Homo sapiens: one gene and its partner. The protein of the gene in region 1 purifies or fractionates together with the protein of each later gene. This does not show direct contact. Each region holds a gene or a part of one and is shown on either strand. Other genes may lie near its edges. The genes, in order: GUCA1B and SCARB2.

Region 1 (4,251 bases):
TACAAAAAAAAAAAAAGAAAAAAAAAAAGAAAAAGGAAGGCCAGGCATGGTGGCTCATGCCTGTAATCCCAACACTTTGGGAGACCGAGGCGGGTGGATCATGAAGTCAAGAGATGGAGACAATCATGGCCAACATGGTGAAACCCCATCTCTACTAAAAATACAAAAATTAGCTGGGCATGGTGGTGCTCGCCTGTAGTCCCAGCTACTGGGGAGGCTGAGGCAGGAGAATCGCTTGAACCTGGGAGGTGGAGGTTGCAGTGAGCCAAGATCATACCACTGCACTACAGCCAGGGTGACAGAGCGAGACTCCAACTCAAAAAAAAAAAAAAAAAAAAAAAAAAAGAGAGAAAAGAAAAGAAAAGAAAAGAAAAAGGAAAAAAGAAAGAAACCTGGCCGGGTGCAGTGGCTCATGCCTGTAATTCCAGCACTCTGGGAGGCCGGGGTGGGCAAATCACTTCAGGTCAGGAGTTCGACACCAGTCTGGTCAACATGGTGAAACCCCGTTTCTACTAAAAATACAAAAATTAGCCAGGCATGGGAGTGTGCACCTGTAATCCTAGCTACTCAGGAGGATGAGTCATGAGAATTGCTTGAACTCAGGAGGTGGAGATTGCAGTGAGCTGAGATTGTGCCACTGCACTCTAGCCTGGGCAACATGGCGAGACCTCATCTCTACCAACATAAATAAATAAATAATACAAAAATTAGCAGGCATGGTGGTGCACACCTGTAATCCCAGCTACTTGAGAGGTTGAGGTGGGAGGATCCCTTGAGCCTGGGAAATCAGAGGCCGCAAAGAGCTGAAATCATGCCACTGGGTGACAGAGCGAGACTCTGTCTCAAAAACAAAAAAGAAAATACACACTGAAATACTTAGGGATAAACGGGCATGATATCTATAGCTTTCTCTTAAAAAAAGTATATGTATAAATTATGTATCATGTATATGTATATATACTTATAGGATACATTATATATATGTATGTATACAGAGAGAGGCAGAATGATAAAGTAAATGATATAAAATGTGAATAACTGGGGAAATTTGGATAAATTGCATATGGGAGTTACTTGTATCATTCTTATAACTCTTCTGTAAATTTAGAATCATAGTAAAATTAAAAAGTTATTCAAAAAGGAAAAAACATTGATGAACATCATATGCCGATTTATAAGAAGAGATGAGGTATAAGGAGTACAACTATATGCCTAGGGGCTTAATCAGCCCTTTGGATCTTGAATCATGATCGTATTGATTTTTAGATGAATCTGGGGAAGATTGATGGACTTAAATGAGTCTTATTATTTATGACCTGATATATTTGTTTACTTTTCTTACATTTTAAAAAAACATCAATTATTTTAAAAAGTCATCTTCTCTCTTTAAAAAACCTGCCTTCTAGGCAGGAGCACTTAAGACCTTGGGCAAATCGATTCATTCCCTTTTGCCCAGCTTTCTCATCATTTAATTTGGAATAACAAAAGTCTGCCCCTCCCACCCAGGGTTGCTGCTGATTCAGAGGAGACCTAAGAGAGGCGGAGCGCTGAGAAGTCCGAAACTGGCTCTGTGCCCTGTGGGGTGGTCGATGGGGTTCATCTCTAAGGAGGTTCTGTTGAATTGAAGGTGCTGACCTCACCCTCCTGTCCCGGGACAGGCACTGTGGGGACGTGCACTGACTGGTACCAGCGACAGGATGAGACCTGAAGTGGCATTCCCAGTGATTCAGCTTAGAAAGCTAAGTTCTCCACGCACTGAGGAATGGAGAACTGACACTTTCTTCAGATTAAATTGGTATTTGAGGCAAATACCAGGGCATTTGAGGTATTTGAGGTATTTGAGGATTGCCAGGGCACTGAACTGGATAACCTTAAATAATCAAGGGGTTTTTAACTGAATTGAAATTTAAAATTCAATCCCCTGGTGCATTTACAAGATGTGTTATCTTCTTAGCTGCTAGTGACATTGTGGGCTTAGAGAAACTCTAGTCTGAATGATTTAATGAAACCTTCCAGGACTTGAAGAGCTGAAAGGGGCTTTTGCAGTCATTCGCCCAGTCTCCCAATACATGCAGGAGCCTCTTCCAGCATTCTTGACAGGGAGGATCTGACCAGTCTCAGAAGAACCCCAACAAGAGGGAGCTCATAGCCCATGCTAAGATACCTTGTCTCATTTAGAACATCTCTTTTGCTCCTAGTGTTTAGAGTGACAGGGGCTCTGGCAGATGCGAAAACCCGGTCATTGGGCTGCAGAGTCTTGGTCAAAAATACACAAAGAGAGGACCTGGACTGTCTGCCAGTCGCCCTTCAGCTCTCAAGAAGAGGACACAGGGAGCATCAGCCGACAGCTAAGAGATGGAGGGAGGGAAGGAGAGACAGAGAAGATGGAAAGGGACAAAAGGAAGAGAAGAGACAGAAGGGTTTGGTGAGTGAGACAGAAAAGGTAAAGAGAGACGGAGTGGAAAGAAGAGCAGAGAAAGAGCCGAGGAGTGGGGAACTGGGAGCTCTCCCTGAGGACACTTGTGGAGGAAGGCGCCAGGTGGACTGGCCACTGGTCCTTCCCTTCAGGGTGCCTTACCCCATTCTTGTCGAAGGCTCGGAACATGCCCTCTACATACTGGGAGGCCTCCTCATCGTCTGTGACCTTGAAGAAGCGCTTAAACTCATGCATAAAGAGTGTGCCGCTGGGGCACTCCATCACAAACTTCTTGTACCACTCCTGGAGCTCCGCCACATCTATCTCGCCAGCTGCCTCCGCCTCCTCCCAGCTAAACTCCTGCCCCATGCTAGCCCTGAGGAGCATCAGGGAGCAAGGGTCTGTATCTCCTCCCTGGCTTCTGCTGATGGATCTCTCCAACTAGGGCCCTCTTCCTCCCTTTCCAGGAGGCCTGATCAGCCTCTCCATCATCTCCTGGGTGACTGAACATGATCAGTCGGTGCAGGGGGCAGGTGGCAAGGGAGGTGGGTCCAGGCCAGCTAAGCTGCCCTAAGACTATTAGAAGATTCCCCAGGTGGCCGGGTGCGGTGGCTCATGCCTGTAATCCCAGCACTTTGGGAGGCCGAGGTGGGTGGATCACAAGGTCAGGAGTTCGAGACCAGCCTGGCCAACATGGTGAAATCCTGTCTCTACTAAAAATACAAAAAATTAGCTGGGCATGGTGGTGGGTACCTGTAATCCCAGCTATTCAGGAGGCTGAGGCAGGAGAATCACTTGAACCTGGGAGATAGAGGTTGCAGTGAGCTGCGATCACACCACTGCACTCCAGCCTGGGGGACAGAGTGAGACTCTGTCTCAAAAAAAAAAAAAAAAAAAAAAAAAGAGATTCCCCAGGAAGTTCTGACCTCCAGCCTAAACTCCTCCAGCCTCACTCCTTCCCTTAGCCTTGTCAACAAAGCAACCAAGCTGGCCCTGGTAGACTCTGAAGAGGTAGAAGGGGAAGAAACTGAGAGGTAAGCAGAGAGATGCAGAGTGAAGAAAGAGTCGGGGTGCTAGGCTGGGATCCTCCCATCTCACTCACTCCCTATCTCTTTAGCTGGGCCTCACATTGCTTCAGGGAGGCCCATCTTGGAGACAGGAGACTCAAATCCAGAGAGGAAGTGAGATCAAGTCCTAGGCCATAAAACAGAATCTGCTGGTGATCTGGGACTCGCCCCTCAGACGGTCTAGTGAAAAGAGGCAGAATCTATGATGGGAAGGGCTCTAGGTGAGCAACTCTCTTCCCAGGCTAACTCGGTCCCTGAAGCTCCTTTCCAGATTACACCTTTCATCTTGGGAGCTTTTCACTTTCTGATTTAAACTACAAATGCCTCCCTCCAACCCTTCACACAAGACCTAGGGGTAGTGCCTTTTTCACATTTCCTCCAAAATACTAACATGTGAGAAGGATCTGGGAGCATGGCCTAAAATATCTTTGAAGGCTCTTACTTTTACATTATAGGTCATGTAAAATTTGCTTTTGAACAATTACATATTCATGCTTATTTTAATGTAACATAAAAATGACACCTCCAAGAAATCAAAAGACCAGGGACACACATTTTTCTTTTTCTTTGCTTTTTTTTTTTAAATTTCTATTTTTTGAGACAGGGTCTCGCTCTGTCGCCCAGGCTGGAGTGCAGTGGTGTGATCTCGGCTCACTGCAACTTCCGCCTCCGGGTTCAAGTGATTCTCATGCCTCAGCCTCCCGAGCAGCTGGGATTACAGGTGCACACCACAACACCCAGCTATTTTTTCTTCTTTTTTTTTTTTTT
Region 2 (3,819 bases), on another chromosome or scaffold:
TTACTGGAGAAGCATAACAGTTTTTACCATGTATGAAGTGAGACTGTTTTAAAACAAAAGTAAAAGAATCTTCAACCAGCATAAGCTTCCATTTGGGTACACAGAAGGCTGGTCAGAGACAGAACTGAGAACAACCTCTCTGAGCTGTGTGTAGTGAACATGGAGTCGCTGGCCAGGCTGACACCTGACCTGCAGATGAAGGAACAGATGCAGGCTGGATTAGCTTGACTGCTGAACACTGACATGACTTAATACAGCCACAACCCAAGTCAGCCTAACAGCAATCTTTTGGGAAGGCAACACCATGAGAGTGGTGAAACCAGCTGTCCTGATGTAAGCCACTTCCAAGTGATAAAAATAAGCACTCAGGGAATCCATTAGGCTTTCACGGGAATCAGTAATACCTTTAAGGAAAGTTTCGGGATTCGAGAGCACTACTGGTTGTTCTTTAAGGTCAGTAAAGTGCTACTTCATAATTAAACACAACTTAAGCATCCATGTTGCCATCTGCACAGTCTAAATTCATCCAGAGATAATGCAGACCAACTTGGAGAACTTGCCCTAATTGTGTATGGATGGTATATTGGCCTAATTGTATACTGGACTCCAGATTAATAAAACTCATCAAATGGCAAAACACCAATTGATTTGCTTTGTTTTTTAAAATTGCTCCCTGAAACGAAGCAAACCCAACCCAGACTCATGCAGTAATTTAAGTAATTTCCACTGTTTACATAAAAGAAAGAAACTGCCATTAACATTCTACTCTTATTCCCTGACCTTATTTTAACTCAGTAAAAATGTATTGGCATTCATTTATTTATGTCACTGTTGCTTAACTCATTTTCATTTTGCAACTGTCATAATTTTAACTAATGAGCTCTGATAGTTCAGATTCAAATGTAGCTCATGGGTGAACTGTACTTTGTTTATAAATTACATACAGGACAATATGGTGGAATGACAATCCCAAAAAACCTCCTGCTACAAAATACCCACTAACTTATTTTTGAAAGTTTCTAGGTGATTACAAATGTACAGCCAAGTTTGAGAACTGATGACCTAAAGGGAAAAAAAGCAGCTACCGATAGAAACTTAAACATAGAACCAGGTGAAAATTGGGAGCGGGAGGGGAATATATATATACATATATGGGGAGTGGGGAGGCGGGTGAGAAAGAGGAGTTTCAGATGTGAATAAATAAGAAATAAGGCCACGGAAACAAGGCCCACATTCTGTGTGTAACTTGCACAGCCAGTCTCATTATTTTGCAACCTGTTTGGTTGTGATTATATCTCTCAAAATTGAAATAAGTAATATTTTCATTACCTACCTATTTCTATGTCTCCTCTTCCACTACTGTTGATTATCAGAAGTACAGTGTTAAAAGAAAATATCCTTAAAATGGGAATTGTGGGCGCTGGGAGGACTGGTGAGATGTTAGTCAAAGGACACAAAATTTCAGTTTGATATAAACAAATTCAAGAGATCTAATGTACATCATGGTGATCACAGTGGATAACAATATATTGGGCCAGGCACAGTGGCTCACGCCTGTAATCCCAGCACTTTAGGAGGCAAAGGTGGGAGGATTGCTTAAGCTCAGGAATTTGAGACCAGCCTGGGCAACACAGCAAGACCCCATCTCTACAAAAAAATATTTAAAAATTAGCCTGGCATGGTGCACACCTGTAGTTCCAGCAACTTTAGAGTTTAAGGCAGGAGGATGGCTTGAACCCAGGAGGTCAAGGCTGCAGTGAGCCATGGTAGTGGCACTGTACTCCAGCCTGGGTGACAGAGAGAAGCCCTATCTCAAAACAAAAACAAAAACAAAAACAAAAATAAAATAAAATAAAACCCCAAAATATTGTATATTTGAAAAATGCTGAGATTAGATTTTGTGTTCTTACCACAAAACAAAGATAAGTAATTGAGGTAAGGTGTATGTTAAACAGCTTGATTTAGCCATTTCACTATGTATATCTATATGTATATCTCTCTCAAAACATCATGTTGCATGCCCTAAATATGTACAATTTTGACTTGTCAATTAAAAAATGAATTTTAAAAAATGGGACTTGTGATGAGTGATTACATTAGTGTAACAATGGCACTCTGCCTCACACTGTCTCTGGAAAGTGTGTAAAATTCAGATGCTGAAGGGGCCAGATGGCTAGGGCAAATGAGTGACACAGGCCATGGGTTTGTACATTTGTTTGCATGTCAAACCCCAGCAGCAATATTCATTTCTACAGAGAAACATGCCCTCCCCCATTTCTGTTAAACACATGATCCTCTCAAGCTATCTTTCATTTTCCTTCTTTTGGTAAGGAGTGTCAGATATAGAGAAACATTTCTCTACTCTAAGAAACACAACAGCACATGCACAACAACGGATACCTTCACTGGGCCTTGGGAGCCAATAAGGGCGCAAAGGACGGTGGGTGCTGTGGTCTGAATGTTTATGTCCCCTCAAAACTCCTTTGTTGATATCCTTACCCCCAAGGTGGTGAGATTAGGAGGTGGGGCCTTTGGAGGTGATTAGGTCACGAGCGTAGAACCCTCTCGAATGGGATTAGTTCTCATAAAAGGTACCCCAGAGAGCTCATTTGCCATGTGAGGTTAGAGTGAGAAGACCATAATCTATGAGGCAGTGGACCCTCACCATACCCCAAATCTGCCGGGGCCTTGATCTTGGACTTCCTAGCCTCCAGAACTGTAAGAAATAAATTTCTGTTGTTTATAAGCCACCCAGTCTATGCTATTTTGTGACAGCAGCCTGAATGGACTAAGACAGTGGGAAACAGGGAAGGCAGGTCTCTTCTAAGGGTCAGCCTCTTTTCTGCCGAGACAGCTACCACACAGAACTTGGTATGACGAGTACCAAAGAACATCCACATGTTTCAAGAGAAGCTGGAAATCTGGACCAATACGTGAAGTTTCCAGATTTTAAAGGTATAAATCATTCATGAGACAAACATGTGACCACTGGCCTACAGAGTGAGGCAAAATGTGAGACTAAACAACAAAATGCAAACAAAATCATTTCCAAAGAAATTATTTTCTCTATTCATCCAAGTAACACTTACTGACCATCTATTTTGAATAAGACATTGCATTTGGCAGTAAGAAAAGACACAAAACTAAATACGACAGGACATCTACCTTCAAAGAGAGCTTTCATACTAGATTAAAATACCAAATTACGTCATATGGGTTGAAAATCCCCGCAGGGCTGAGGCCAGAAGGGAATTACTGAGTAATTCAATTATGGAGATATGAATGCTCTTGTCTACTTTGATCAGCACTCGGGGAAAGACAAGAGATTGTGGAACTGGAATTACTGATGGCCCAAACTCCTATTTTTAACACTGGACTCACAGGAAAGCCAAAAGGACACAGTAAATCAAAGACACACCAAGCAAAATCCTGGTTGTTTGAAAACATTAACAAGATAGCTTCCAAACTGGCCTTACAGGAATATAAAACAGGGATATTATGTATTTTTAAAAATATTCTAAAAAAATAATTAAATGAAAACTAGATCAACAGTTCTCAAAGTGTGATCTCAGGACCCCTGGGGAGCCCGAAGACCTTCTTAGGAGGCGCCCACAAGGTCAAAACTATTTTAATACTAAGGTATCATTTGCGTTTTTAATTCTATTATTTCTCTGAGTGTAGAGTGGAGTCTTCCAGAGGTTACGTGATATATAATGATGTCATATTGGAATATGTGCTTGTGTAGTCTTCTGTTTTAAACATTTCTCAAAAATACATATCAGTTTCAATTTCTAATATTGTAACTATCAATAGGTATGG

What was found.
Region 2: the proteins of GUCA1B (region 1) and SCARB2 purify together in Homo sapiens (affinity purification with mass spectrometry; one large-scale study listed by BioGRID and IntAct). This does not show direct contact.

Annotation. Positions count from the first base shown.
Region 1 is NC_000006.12:42,192,036-42,196,286, forward strand, and holds the start of GUCA1B (guanylyl cyclase-activating protein 2), read right to left. Parts: upstream 2,922-4,251; 5' UTR 2,786-2,921; coding exon 2,579-2,785; intron 1-2,578. UniProt on the Homo sapiens protein: Stimulates two retinal guanylyl cyclases (GCs) GUCY2D and GUCY2F when free calcium ions concentration is low, and inhibits GUCY2D and GUCY2F when free calcium ions concentration is elevated.
Region 2 is NC_000004.12:76,203,512-76,207,330, forward strand, and holds part of SCARB2 (lysosome membrane protein 2), read right to left. Parts: intron 1-3,819.